2 linked regions of the Homo sapiens genome follow. The protein of the gene in region 2 interacts with the protein of the main gene of each other region in a pairwise test. Each region holds a gene or a part of one and is shown on either strand. Other genes may lie near its edges.

Region 1 (7,027 bases), on a different chromosome or scaffold from region 2:
GGAGGAAAAAAAATAGAAGCAAAGTTCCTGATCTCAAAAAATAAAATTTTAACACAAGAATTACTTGTTAATGTTGCTAAAATGAATCAAATTCCACACTCTGGGTTAGGCCCAGATTTTTCAACAAGGTCATTATCAGGATGAAATAAGCAAAAGTAAGGTGGTATCATTGATATTGTTGGTATTGCCACAACTGTTATACAGAAACAGTGACCTGGTAAAGGATGCTCTCCAACATTCGGTAGCGTCATTCAGATAAGAAAGCAAAGTAACATTTTAGATGTCTTTCTTAGTGTTTTTAATCAGAAGTCAGATCCCAAAATTAAGAAAATCCCTTTTTAAGTCCCACATTGTAAGCTGAGTCATTACGAGAAATACAGAAATAAGAGATAAGACAGATGCGGGGAAGGAGATACTTCATTCTGATTGCCTGTCAATTCATCATAAGTTAATAACCAATCAGTTGGCATGCATGGGACGGAACTAGGATGGAAGAAAATCCAGTCCAATCCAATTGGGAAGTTTTAATAGGGATAAAAATAGAAATTGTGTATTGTGTCATATGATTCCATTATGTTTATTTGTAAATCTCATCCAAATGTGTAAACTTAGTTTATTTTGTACAAGTTAACAATTTTAAACTGTCTATCCCATTGTTACCCTAGTACGTGAAACATAGCAACCACGATTTTTAAAGAGTTTACAACCTTGCCTACAATATTATGTAAATAATAGTCAGTCAATTTAGCTACAATGGTTGTATAGAAAATGAAGAAGGGGAGGAGAGGCTTACCACTAGTTCACTGCAACAACCTGTTGAGGAGTCCTTTTTTGACAACCCTAAAAATATATCTTCAGTTCCCACCTGCTGTCTGAATATAATCTCATACCTGAAAAAAAATCAATGATTATAGGGACTCAGATGAAAGAGCAATTTCCTGTCACAGAAAAGAAAACTAGTAACTTATGAGGATATGCTATTAGGTAAAATAAAAGGACTAAACAAATAAAGTGCTTGCAGGTCTTCAGGCATATAATAGAACATAAAGGAAAAGAAGTCTAGAAATGTGGTCAAAATAAACACTGAAAGGCAGGATTGTTATTATTTTCTAAAATAAAGCTTTAACTGTTTCAGAGCTAGACAAATAAAATAGATTGAGGGAACTTGTAATAAGATTCTAATAAGATTAAAAGCAGAAGAAAAAAAAGGAAAGTCTGTTCCTGAAAAACAATAGCTCAGAAAAATACTGAGTCCATAACCTAGGGATTGATAGAAACCTTCCTCTGCCAAGTTTAAACCACAGAGCAGAGGAGAAAATTCAGGTTTAGTACTGTTTCTGTCATTAACTGTGGACCTTGGTCAAGTCACAAACTCATGGGGTCTCAGTTTCTACATTTGTATGATTTATGGGAGGGAGGGGTGAGTTTGAACTGAATGATCTCCACGGCTAAAATTCTACAATAGAAACACTGGTAATGTAGTCAGCACAGCTACACCATAGTGCTTAGAATCTAGTCTTACAGAATTCTGAGTGTAATGAAAGGTTTTCCTGATATTTCACCCCACACATGACAATTCACAAATCATTCCTCCCTCCAAATTTGGGCCTCCAGGAATACAATGGTTTATAGAAGCACCCACCACAAGGTACCCCATCTCTTCAGATAGAATGAAACAAATATTTACAAATTATTATTATTATTATTATTATTATTATTATTATGCTTAATGCTACCTTAATGAAGAAATTGTAGATCTCTGGATAGTAAGACTAAAGGACTTGATTGAACTTCTGACCATTTGCCAATAGGAATGCCCAAAAATAAAAAAGGGATTTCTCTGAGTTTGAACATGGCTAACAATAAGCAGCTATTTGCTATGGGGCACTTTTCTCTTAATAGGCTATAACATCTACCAATTATTTATGAAGGTGAAGCCAGGTTAAAACAAACAGAGGATTGATCTATATGTTCATTGCTCCTAATGGATTTGCTCAAGCTCCTGCTCTTATCCTGAGCTCCAGACGCAATTTTCCAACTGTCTACTACAAAGGTTTGCCTGGATGTCCCAAAGACAACTCAAAGTGTACATATCAAAAACCAGCTAGTCATGGTGGCTCTCAACTGTAATCTAGTGCTTAGGGAGGCTGAGGCAGGAAGATTGCTTGAGTCCAGGAGTTTGAGACCAGCCTGGGCAGCACGGTTAGACGCAGTCTTCACAAAAATAAAGTGTGCACCTGTAGTCCCAGCTACTTGGGAGAGTAAGGTGGGAGAATTGCTTGAGCCCGGGAGGTTGAGGCTGCAGTGAACAATGGGCGGGGCCGGGGGGGCGGTGGTTGGCGAAGAAAAAAAACAAATTTGGTTGGGCACTGTGGCTCAGGCCTGTAATCCCAGCACTTTGGGAGGCTGAGGCAGGTGGACTGCTTGAGGCCAGGAGTTCAGGACCAGCCTGGCCAACTTGGTGAAACCTCGTCTCTACAAAAAACACAAAAAACATTAGCCAGGCCTGGTGGCATGCACCTGTAGTCTCAGCTACTTGTGAGGCTGAGGCAGGAGAATCGCTTGAACCCGGAAGGCAGAGGTTGCAGTGAGCCGAGATCACACCACTGCACTCCAGCCTGAGCGACAGAGCAAGACTCTGTCTCAGAAAAAAGGAAGAAAGAAAGAAAGAAAGAAAAAGAAAGAAAGAAAGAAAGAAAGAAAGAAAGAAAGAAAGAAAGAAAGAAAGAAAGGGAGAAAGAAAGAAAACAAAAACAAACTCACTGCTTCTTCTTAACCTATAATTCCTATCAAAGTTAATGGCATTATCATTTCCTCAGTCACCCAAGCTAATAACTTCAGCATCATCTTTGACGCTCTCCTCTCATCCATTTTATCTAACCAAATACCAACTCTTCATCCAAAACTCACTCAAATAAAGACCCTCATACTTCTCCCCAAGGCCAGTGCCTTAGCTCAGCTCCTTGTTATTCTTTTACTTGGCCACTTGTGATTCTTCTTTTTTGAACTGCCTGTTCATGTTCTTTACCTATTTTCCTCTGCATCCACTGAGAAATGTTGAAATGTATTTTCATAAGGTAGAAGATGAAGATTTTTAAAATCTTATAAAGCAATTTTCCTCATAATAACCTGAAGTTATTATTCATTTAAAGCTTTCATGGATGTTCTATCTACCTAACATCAAACATCAGGATGAAAAGGGAAAAATTACTCAAATTTGAAGTTTGCTGCATATGGATATTTGACATTTGTTAGACAATATGACAAATAAGTGACTTAATTATTACTTTTCATATGATACGTGGACACTATATAAACATAACTTCAAATTTACTCTCTTCGTTCTCTAAGAAATGTTTTAAAATCTCCTTTGATTTTTTATGAGGTTTATGGTCTTGACATTGTTTATTTGAAAGCTGGATACTTCTTTCTAGTTAATTGTCTGCAGTCTCCCACTGCTTCTGTTTTCAGAACTTATGTAGAAGGCAGAAGCATGGAGTTTTTGTTTATTTGCTTGTTTTATACTGGACAATTTTGGCTGGGCGCAGTGGCTCATGCCTGTAATCTTAGCACTTTGGGAGGCTGAGGCGGGCGGATTGCCTGAGGTCAGGAGTTCCAGACCAGCCTGGCCAACATGGTGAAACCCCGTCTCTACTAAAAATACAAAAATTAGCTGGGCGTGGTGGCAGGTGCCTGTAGTTCCAGCTACATGGGAGGCTGAGGCAGGAGAATTGCTTGAACCCAGGAGGGGCGCAGGTTGCAGTGAGCAGAGATTGTGCCACTGCACTCCAGCCTGGGCGACAGAGCAAGACTCTGTCTAAAAAAAAAAAAAAATACTGGATAGTTTTGTATTCAGTATTAGAAAAGTTGTCAGATCACTTGCCATAGAAGTCTTTAAGAATTTATATAGTACATTATAATTTAGTAAGTGTTGGCTTTATTTTTCCTGCTATTCTAAATAGTCAATCCAAATTTTATTTCAAAATACACATATGTAAAGCTTAGTCTATTTGACCAATAATTTAATCTATGTATATAAATATATTTTAAGGTTCTTAAAAGTATGAGTGCTTTTAAAATCAGAATAAAAGGCTTTTTATAATAATTCTAAATTTCATATTTACAACTTGATTGTATTGAAAAGGCTACAAAGCAAGTCTTGAACCCTGCTTGCAAAATACACTGAACACTAAATATAATCTTAGAATATCTAGTAAACAAGTCTGGGTAATAATTGATAATTGGAGAGAGAACATAGCCTTTTACCGAAATTGTGGAACATTGAGTAATTAAAAGCAAGTGCTTGACAAATAAACATGGCATTGTAATTTAGTTTGTATGAATGCTTGCAATTTAATGGGCTGGCTTTCTCCAACTGCTAGTTCCACATTATACAACAAATTGACATTAAATATAAATTTATAATGGAAATGACTATATTTTTCATTTTTGCTAGATAGTAACTGAAAGGAAGGTGTTATGCTTTATTATTTGTTTCTGCTCTAGAAGGAAAAAAATAATCAATTACACATGCCTTCCGTGTGTCACTGTAGTTTTATCTTTTATGTGGTATGTTACTTTATGAATCTTGTAAAAAGTAAAATGTTATCAGATGACACAGCTAACTTAAACTCCTAAAGACATTCCTGGCTTCATTTGACTTACTCTGGGATTTCTCTAACATCCCACATATCATCATATTCTGCTCCTTCTGGAATCTCTTCTGAATTCCAGATGTCCTCATTATTTTCCTCGCTGGTTTCAGGGATGACTGTGAAGAAAGGGAAGATAAAGCTGAAGCTCATGCTTTTTTCCTTCTCTAAATTGCTCCTGTTCTTCTTCACACTCAGTTTGGGTTCATTGAAATAAAACATTATTTGTAATCGCTAGCTTTTTTTTTTGATCAAAACAAACTAAATTAGTAACTACTGACTAAATGTTTCTATCAATACAGAACCAATACATTGTAGAATTTTAATAACAACTGTAGAGAATTTGGCAAAAACATAAACAAAAAGAAGAAAATAATCTACAATCCAACTGCCTGGAGATAATCAATGTTAGTATTCTGTTGTGTATCATTCCAGTCTCTCTCTCTCTCTCTCTCCATATACATATGCAAAGAAATATTACACATTTTTCCAGAAACATAAATAGGATTATATTTAAAAATATTTTTATATAAAAGAAAAAATTACAACTACAATCAATCTGATGTGGAGAGAAATGTCTTATCTTGCATTGTTTTTACTATATAAAAACGCTTTGATATCTTTTCCATGCAAGCATGACATAATTCTCAATAATATCAATTAAAGAAACTGAAAGCAGTGGATACAATGATCATTTTTTAGTCCAGCATTTTCCTCATGCAGAGCTGAGCATGAGGTTGGGTTTCTGCATGTCATCTTTAAATGTTTAAAAATGGATAGGCTCCAGTAGGCATGCAAAAACCCAGCTCACATTTGTTTTAACTATTGTAGCATCCGGTGGAGACCTGCATTAGGTGCAGAGCACTGCTTTGAGTCATTTTAAGCATTCCCAGAAATGCACCCGATTGTTAGGTTTTCAATTCTGGCAATTCTTTTGAAATGATCAGCTTCTATCTAGCACGGGCTTTGTAAAGCCTAACTACAGATTTATATATAACATTTTACATATGAATCATTGCCTTCAGAATTTAAAGATTATTAGACCTACATTATCAGAAATACAGGCAGCACAGAAATACATGAAATGTGAATTAGACTGCCATGGAGCGAATATCTCTTGGGTAAGGCAAATAGCCTCTTGAGTATGTATAGCAATAATAACTGAAATTTTAAAACCATCCTTAGACCTCATTTTAGCCATTATTTTAAACATTTGTCCAGATTAATCTTTTGCAATTAACTAAATTGATGAATGAAATTCACTTCCTCTCCCTTCCTATCCTCTGGTTAATGGTGATCATGACCAACAGAATTAGAGCCTTTTATATTTTTAAAGATTTGTAAAATGTTCAACTCTGTAAAAATGTATAGCTCAAAATGCTGGGGAAATGTAAAAATATTATTTAGCCTTATTTATTGGACTTTTTTTTATAAGTAAACTCAAAGATGTTAATGTATAAGCCTCTTAATGTAAGATAAAATTGTGTAGTTATTTGTTTTATTGTCTTCTCCAAAAGTCTATTAGCTCAATCAGAACAGGGACTTTTTCTGTTTTGATCTGCATTGTAGTATCAGAGATGGTCATACTGCCTGATACAATAGGTTCTCAATAAATATTTATTAAACAATTCAATGAATGAATTCCATGAAATTGCTAGAATATAGGAAGGTAGAAGGTAAAGAAGCTAAGCATCTTGGTAAATAGACCTTAAAAAATAAAAAATGATCTAACCACACGTGACTTTCTTGGTCTTCTATCTCAGAAAATATGCAAGGAATGTGGATAATTCAAGGCAAATATATTTCCATTATTAGAAAAACTATTTACCTGCAGTGGTAGAGTAAAAACAGCATCTTTATATGTAAATGGCTATTCATCATTTCCATGATTATTTTAGTTCATCTTTTTTCTATTTAAAAATTATTTATTCATTTCTCCATTTTTAATGAACAAATAAAAATTGTATATATTTATGATATACCATATGATGTTCTGAAATATGTATACACAGTGGATGACTAACTCAAGCTGATTAACATATGGATTACCTCACCTACTTATCATTTACTTGTGATGAGAATACTTAAAATCTACTATCTTAGCAATTTCCAAGTATACAATACATTGTTATTTAGTTCATCTTAATAAATACTAGTATTAGTACTTATTACTCTCCCTATAATTTCTCTACCAAGGAAAAGATTATATTGATCTATATTGCTTTGTTAAATAACTTACCTTTGAGCTCTTCTATTTGGGGTGGTCCAATATTCCCAGGACCCATGGCTCCAATAGTAGATAAACCATTTGTCTGAGGGAGGAGAAAAAGTTCAATATTCTGTAATTAATACTTGTATAACCTATATGACTAGTG
Region 2 (7,173 bases):
TCATTATAGAAACAATCAAGATTGAAGAAAATCTTTGGGAAGGGCATAGTGAGTGGGAATTGAGAAAGAATTATGGTCTCCTTCATTTTGATTTCTTACCTCCTAGCCCTTCTTTTCCCAATCCAGTTTTCTCCCCAGAGATGCTTCACATTCTTTGTTCAGGCCTTTTCACTTCTCTTCCAGTCAACACAACCTTCACTTCTTTTACAGGTCACCTCCTCCTGGAAGACTTCCTGAAATGATTCCCACTTGTCCTTCAATCTGTCAACAGAATCCTCCCTCACTCTTCCCCCGTCACTGCACCTTTAAAATTTGGTAATGACAGATTTAGGTTGATGATGGATACACTTTATCTGCCTTCTTACACACCCTAATTCAGTAATGCTAAATTTTGTTGATGATGGATACACTTTACCTGCCTTATCACACTTCCTAAGGGCAGGGACCATGACTGTCCTGTGATCAGTCTCCCAAACTCCTCTATCATACTTATCTCTCCCTCTGGAAAGCTTCTAAAGACTAGTGGGGCTTTTAAAAGCATGAGGATGTTGCTAATATGGAGGAGAGAGACTGAAGGATAAATGAAAGGATAGAAGAAAAAAATGAAGAGAAGGAAAAGAAGGGATGGGTCAAGGCCTGTCCCACCTCTGACATTCCCTAGTGCCATGCATGGGTATCAAGCTGTCACACTCCACAACACCACAAGTAGGAATCCTGGAAGGAGTTGGAAAGGGGTGGGAACAGTTATTTAGGAGACACCTACATTAAGGAAGGAAGATGTGGATCCTAGCAGAGAGACAGGATCCCGTCATGGTCAACTGGATCAAGCCAAGCCAAGCTGACACACGTAAAATCACATCCACCCTTCTGGCTCTCTGGAAATAGAATGAACTCAGTGGTGATTAGAGCATCAAGTATAGAGTTGTTAGGGATTCTGGAAAGGGAGGGAGAAGGTCTTGAGAAGTGAGATGTTTCCAGGCAGAGTCTGTCTCCAAATGCCTTTTCCCTTACTGGTGTCCTGGAACCATTAGGTATGAACTCATTGTAACCTGGACGTAAAGGTTGAGCTGATGCTTTGTTAGCAGGAATCCTCACCATCTGGTTATGGAAGGCAAATGACAACTAGTCATGAACTTCCTAGCCAGACTGAGCACCATATGTCTTATAACACCTGAGCGTTTCCCAGCACTATGCCTGGCATCTGCCAGTGAGGCATGACTATTGGTTGAGAAGGATAAGAAGGTCTAAGCAGAGTCAATCAAATGACCCTCTCAGGTTGTCCAATCAGTGTAATGAGCAATTCAACAACTGGACCTAAGTTTATTAAGGCTGACTGTGTGCCAGGTGCTATTCTAGGTGCAGGGAAAGCAGCAGCAAACATGAAGGTTAGGTCCCTGTTCACTCACCTTCTATTGGACAGAGACACATCAAAAGTCCATAAATAGATCACTGCAGACAGTAATAAATAGCATGAAGATAATAAATATGGGTAAAGAGATAGTGAATACCTTTGAGAAAGACCACTTGAGATACAAGTGGTAAAAGAAGTCCTCTCTGAATGTTACCTTTGGGTTGAGACATGAGTGAGAAAATGGAGAAAGCCATGTGAAGCTCTGGAGGAGCAGGGGCCCAGGCAGAGGGAACAGTGAGTGCAAAGGCGGTGCAGCCGCACCAGCAGTGGCTCGGGGAACGAGAAGTAGAAGGCACTGCAGCCAGAGCACAAGGAGCAAAATGGAGTGACCAGCCCACATGAACAGCCGTCATTCAAGACCATGGTTCTCCTGTTAGCTAAACACTGCAACCATCTGGAAAGCTTTTAAAAGTACTGACACCTGGGACCCACCCCCAGGGTGTCCGTTTAATTGGTCTGAGGTGTCACTTGGGCATCAGGAGTTTTAAAGTTTCCCAGATAATTCTAATGTGCAACTGAAGCTGTTAACCGCTGACAAGCCCATGAGGGCCATAGCAAGGCACTTGGATTGGTGACAATTGAGGTTCTTGAGGAGTCTCAGAGACATTTCTCCAGTACTTCAAGCCCAGATCCAAAAAGATCCTGAGAGGCCTTGGAGTTGGGGATAAGCCAGGACAATGAAGGAAAAGAGATAACATGAGACTGAAAAGAAGGTCAAGAGAGGCAGAGACATCCAGAAAATATGACAAACTGGAAGGTGCAACAACACAGAAGTGCAAACAGACTCAGAGAGTCAGAGACTGGAGGAGAAAAGGCAATCTTGTGTATTAGTTTCCTATTGATACTGTAACAAATTACCACAAACTTAGGAGCTTGAAACAATACACATTTGTTACTTTATTATTCTGTAGTTCAGAGTCTGAAATGGGTCTTACTGGGCAAAAATTAAGGTGTCAGCAGTGCTAGGTTCCTTCTGAATGGTCTGCTAGAGAATCCATTCCCTCGTCTTTTGCAGCTTCCAGAGGTTACCCACTTCCTTAGCTTGTGGCTTCCTGCCTCAGTCTCCAAAGCCAGCAATGTCAGGCCGATCACTTCTCATGCTGCTATCTCTCTATGCTACCTATCAGAGCATAGAAGTGCATCTTTTACAAAATAGATTTCAGTCACAACTGTAGTCTTATGCTTGGGTATCTGTGTGTTTTATGAGCACTGAGCCGGGAGGGTTGTTCCAAGATGAATGTACGTGTGTTTGTTTGTGTAGGTTTGTTTATCAGGGTGTCATATTTGAGTGTCTCCCCGATAAGTATGGGGGAGGCAGAAGAAGAGTGCCTGGAGGGGGTGCCTAATAAAGTCCTGCTGCTCCATAAAGACTTACTGCTGTTATACTGTTATTCTTATTAATAATAAAACTGATGATAGAGTATCTGTCTCTTTGCCTGTTTTCTTTGAGCATGTCCGTCTGTTCCTAAATAATACTGGACATTTATCCCAGTGATATTCAATGCATATGAGGCTATTCATACACATTATATTTAGCTGTGATGTTTGTATTACATGAATGCTTCTGTCTGCAAGTTTGTGCACATTTGGGCATTTGGACACTGATGGATGCAGACACATGTTATATAACAGTGTGGGTGATCATAGTTGTAGACATCTGGATGTTTACTTATGCACAAACCCCCATGAGTATCCAGTTAGCTAGGCCTGGCATTGGAAGGGTAGAGAAGCTAGGAAGAGGAGGGAGCAGGGAGGAAGAGGAGAGGTGGGGAGAGGAGCAGGTAAGGAGAAAAAGAGAGAATGGAGGTGAGGAATGAAGGCACAAAGGAACACCAGAAAAAAATCAGGAAGCAGGAGGGGGTCCCAGGGATCTGCAACTGAAAAAGGCAGGGTTGACTCACAGCAAGAACACAAGTCAGAAGACCAGGGTAGGGCTCCACTTCTGGTCATTCCCTTGCTATGTGACCTTGGCTATTCCAGTTCTCTGGGCCTCTGTGAACTACCAGAGTTGAAATAGATAATACCGGGTACATTCCAAAGAAGGAAGGAAAGAGAAAACTGGTAATAAAATCACACACGGGGAAAAACAGAGAGAAAGAACCAGAAAGAGAGACTTACGAAGAAAGTAAGGAGAGGCCCTGGGAGCTGGCCAGAGGTAGAGCTGAAAGAGCTCTGCCCCGACTCCCTGAGGCCGAAGTGTGGGCGCCTGCTCCCCACCCCTTACCCCAGAGCTGCAGAATGCCCTTAAGCCCTTAATAGGTAAGGAAGGAAGATGGAAAGGCGAGAGGCACCAGGAATGAAAACCACACATCAACACTCAGAGGCTTGCCAAAGCCACACAAACCAGGATCTGTGCTTCCGGCCCCCAGCCCCCAGATGTAGGTGTGCCAGCCACCTGGAATGACTCGCACCTTGGCAATGTGGGCGCACATGCCAAGAGTGAGCCTGGGCACCCGGCCCATGCGCGTACCACAGGCGGAGGGGAAGGTAAAATTGGGGCTCTTCGGGGGGTCACAGGGGGCTACCCTCCCCACACAGGGCTACCCCGCCCCAGAGCGCCCTCTAGTGACCGCCTCCTAGGCTCTGGGAACCAGGTGTGCTATTCTCCCCTCCCTGCTCCCCCAAACCTTACCCGGGAAGCAGGAGAACCAGATGAGGCGTTACGCAAGGCCTGGTGTTTACCTCCCGTGGGAGCCTCCTCCCTCCCTATAAAGCCTGATGTGGTGGAGAGATTTGACGAGACTGAGACTCTGGTTGAAGAGAGAGGCAATCCCAGGAGAGGGGCGGAAAGCGGCAAAAGTTAATGCGGGAGTCGGAGAGAAGGGCATCTACACAGCAAGCAGCAGGGGCGGCCCGCCATCTGCGCGCTCGAAGGCGGTCACGGTGGTCGCGGAAGGGGCGGCGTCCAGATCCTGGCTTTCCATGGATGCGCCCGAGCTGGGCCCGGGGCTGGTGGAGCGTCTGGAGCAGCTGGCGACGTGTCCTCTGTGCGGGGGCTCCTTCGAGGACCCGGTGCTTCTGGCGTGCGAGCACAGCTTCTGCCGCGCGTGTCTGGCCCGCCGCTGGGGGACTCCGCCGGCGACCGGCACCGAGGCTTCCCCCACCGCCTGTCCCTGCTGCGGCCTGCCGTGTCCCCGCCGCAGCCTGAGGTCTAATGTGCGGCTGGCGGTGGAGGTGCGAATCAGCCGCGAGCTGCGAGAGAAGCTGGCTGAGCCTGGGGCCCGTGCGGGGAGACGCCGAGGGGGGCGCATCCCCACCATGGGCTGCCTGGACCTGCCCGGAGAGGTGAGGCTGGGCGCGCGTCGCGGAGTTGTTGGTGGAAGCGGGAGGTTCCCGGGGAAGCCGGGAATGGCACGTCTGGAGCCGGAGGCCCTGTGGAAGTTTAGGCAAAGGATGGGGTGGGGAGAGAAAAGCAAAGGATGAGGGGGCGAGGACCCTGGGTCCTCAAGGTGAGAGGCGCCCGGAAGGACGATGGATGGAGTTGACACTTGGTCCACAGGGGAGGAGGCTGGACCGATGCCTGAGCCTTGTGAGAGGGGCTGGAGAGAAGAGACTGGGGAGGCAGAGAAGGGGTACCGGATAGAACGCGGAGAGCCCTGGAGTCGCCGCGAAGGGCATGGGAACTGCAGAAGTTTTGGCAGGGCAGCCGCAGGCGCCCGGGAGGAGGAGAGCTGGCGGAGGGGAGGGAGCGGCGGGCGGAAGGGAGAGCCGACCCAGCTGAGGGTGAGGAGGGGTCCTGGGAGGATGGTGGGCGAGGGCAGAACCTGCTTAGAGGAGCGGGAGCAGGAGGCTGGGCTGGTGGGTTGGGGGCGGAGAAAAAGCTGGGGAGGAGGGGACTGACAAGAGGATGGAGGAAGGGAGCAAGGGGTTGGGGCATATCCAAACCTCCCCGTAGCGTCGTGGGGGTTGGTCTCGGACTCTGGCTCAAGCTAAGCCCTGTGTTGTTTGTTATTGTTATTTCGGCTCCTCCCAAGGCCCCAGGCAGGAGCGGCCAGGGGTGGAGGCGAGGTGCGGGAGAACAGCCGCTGGGGCCTCTGGCTCCTCTCCACATCCCAGTCTTACCACCCATCTACCCCCCGCGCCTCTCCTGGGCCCCGGCTCCTTGGCCACTAACCAGCCCATTCCCTTGCCCGACCGACCCCTGGGCGTCTGGGACTCCTGACTGGCTTCTTCCCAGCAGCCAAGCTGGTCTTGGGTCTTGCTTCTGCCCTTTGAAGTCTTCATAGACCTAATTAGTCTGAAAGTAATTGGCACAATTATGCAAATTGTTTCTCTCTCCCCCGCTCCACCATATCGGCCTGCTCCAGCCATCAGCACTAGACAGTGAAGTGGAGGGGTCGGTATCCCAGTGTTTGGAGGGGAGCATCCAGTGCCCTCTCCTGGCTCCCATAGTACTCTGTGGATCTGCTGGGCCTTTTGGGACACATTCAAGTCTAGCTGCCTCCCTGGCCAGGGTCCAGAGACACAAAGCAAAGGGCCCAATAAATGCCACTGGGCTTTTATTGCAAGAGGGGAAGCAGCTTTATTGTAAGGCTTTTATATACCAACTCTTAGCCCGAGGGCTCTGGGTGTGTGTTTGGTCTGTGTGATGGAGGGAGGAAGGGACAGATGTTTTTCTGGGATGCACTGGGGAAGGTAGATAAGGATGGGGCCGCTGAAAGAGACAGAGAATGGGACTGAGGAGGCAGCAAGGAAGGCAAGGGCTCTGAGGACAAGAAACAGTCACGGACGAGCCTGGGAAAAGAGAATTGAGAACCCTTGGGGAGTGGAAAGGGGGAGGACAGTGGGGATGGAGTTAGGAGGATGAGGGAAAAGTGATGGGGTGAGAGGAAGGAGGGATCATGAAAGGTGAAGGAGGAGAATGAGAGGGAAAGGAGCACAGTGTGTAAAGAGGTGAGATCACTCTGAAAGGTGAGGAGGGACACTGCTAACTCAGACAGAACTCACCTGAGGAGGGGAGAGATAGGGAAGGATGCCCCAGGGAATGAAGCCCAGAGCTCACATCCATGTTTGTTTCTGCCCATCCTAGGATATGAGGAAGACATGGAGACGGTGAGTTCCACTTTTCTGTTCCCTCCTTTTCTCACCAGCTGCCATAGCCATCACGTTCTCACTGGGCCCACACCTTTGTTCCCATTAATAGGCAGGTTTTCTGGGGTATAGTCTCATCCCTTCTTCCTCCAGAGATGTGAGTGGGGTATGCGTGGGGGCATTAGGATCAGAGGGCTGATTTCCTGACCCTTCCCCTCATCTGTGTAGATTTGAAGTCCCAACATCCAAGTCATCTAATTCAGAGGATGATCTCCCTGAAGATTATCCAGTGGTCAAAAAAATGCTTCATAGACTGACAGGTAAGGAAAGAAGAAGGGAGGGAAGGGAATTGAATGAAAGTCTGTGTTAGATTTTCTTCCTTTTAGCCCTAAAAAGTGATCAGGTCCTTTTTGATGTCTGCATTAGTTTCCTAGTACTGCTCTAATGAAGCACCGCAAAGTAGGTGGCTGAAACAACAGACATTTATCTCAAAGTTCAGGAGGTAGAAGTCTGAAATCAAGGTGTCAGCAGTGTTGGTTCCTTCTGACGGCCATGAGACAGAATCTGTTCCATGCCTGTCTCCTAGCCTCTGGTAGCCTCACATGTTCTTTGGGTGATAGGTCTGCACATTTTCTTTTGTATGCATTTGTCTCTGTGTCCAAATTTCCTCTTTTTGTAAGTCAGCAATCTGGATTAGAGCCCACCCTAATGACCTTCATTTTAACTTGATT

Evidence for each region.
Region 1: the proteins of RNF39 (region 2) and DNAAF6 interact in binary tests that used the Homo sapiens proteins (3 or more experiments, as listed by UniProt).

The regions. Positions count from the first base shown.
Region 1 is NC_000023.11:107,216,608-107,223,634, reverse strand, and holds part of DNAAF6 (dynein axonemal assembly factor 6), read right to left. Parts: intron 6,965-7,027; coding exon 6,892-6,964; intron 4,772-6,891; coding exon 4,666-4,771; intron 891-4,665; coding exon 794-890; intron 1-793. UniProt on the Homo sapiens protein: Plays a role in cytoplasmic pre-assembly of axonemal dynein.
Region 2 is NC_000006.12:30,072,746-30,079,918, reverse strand, and holds the start of RNF39 (RING finger protein 39), read left to right. Parts: upstream 1-4,149; 5' UTR 4,150-4,333; coding exon 4,334-4,696; intron 4,697-6,440; coding exon 6,441-6,463; intron 6,464-6,670; coding exon 6,671-6,762; intron 6,763-7,173.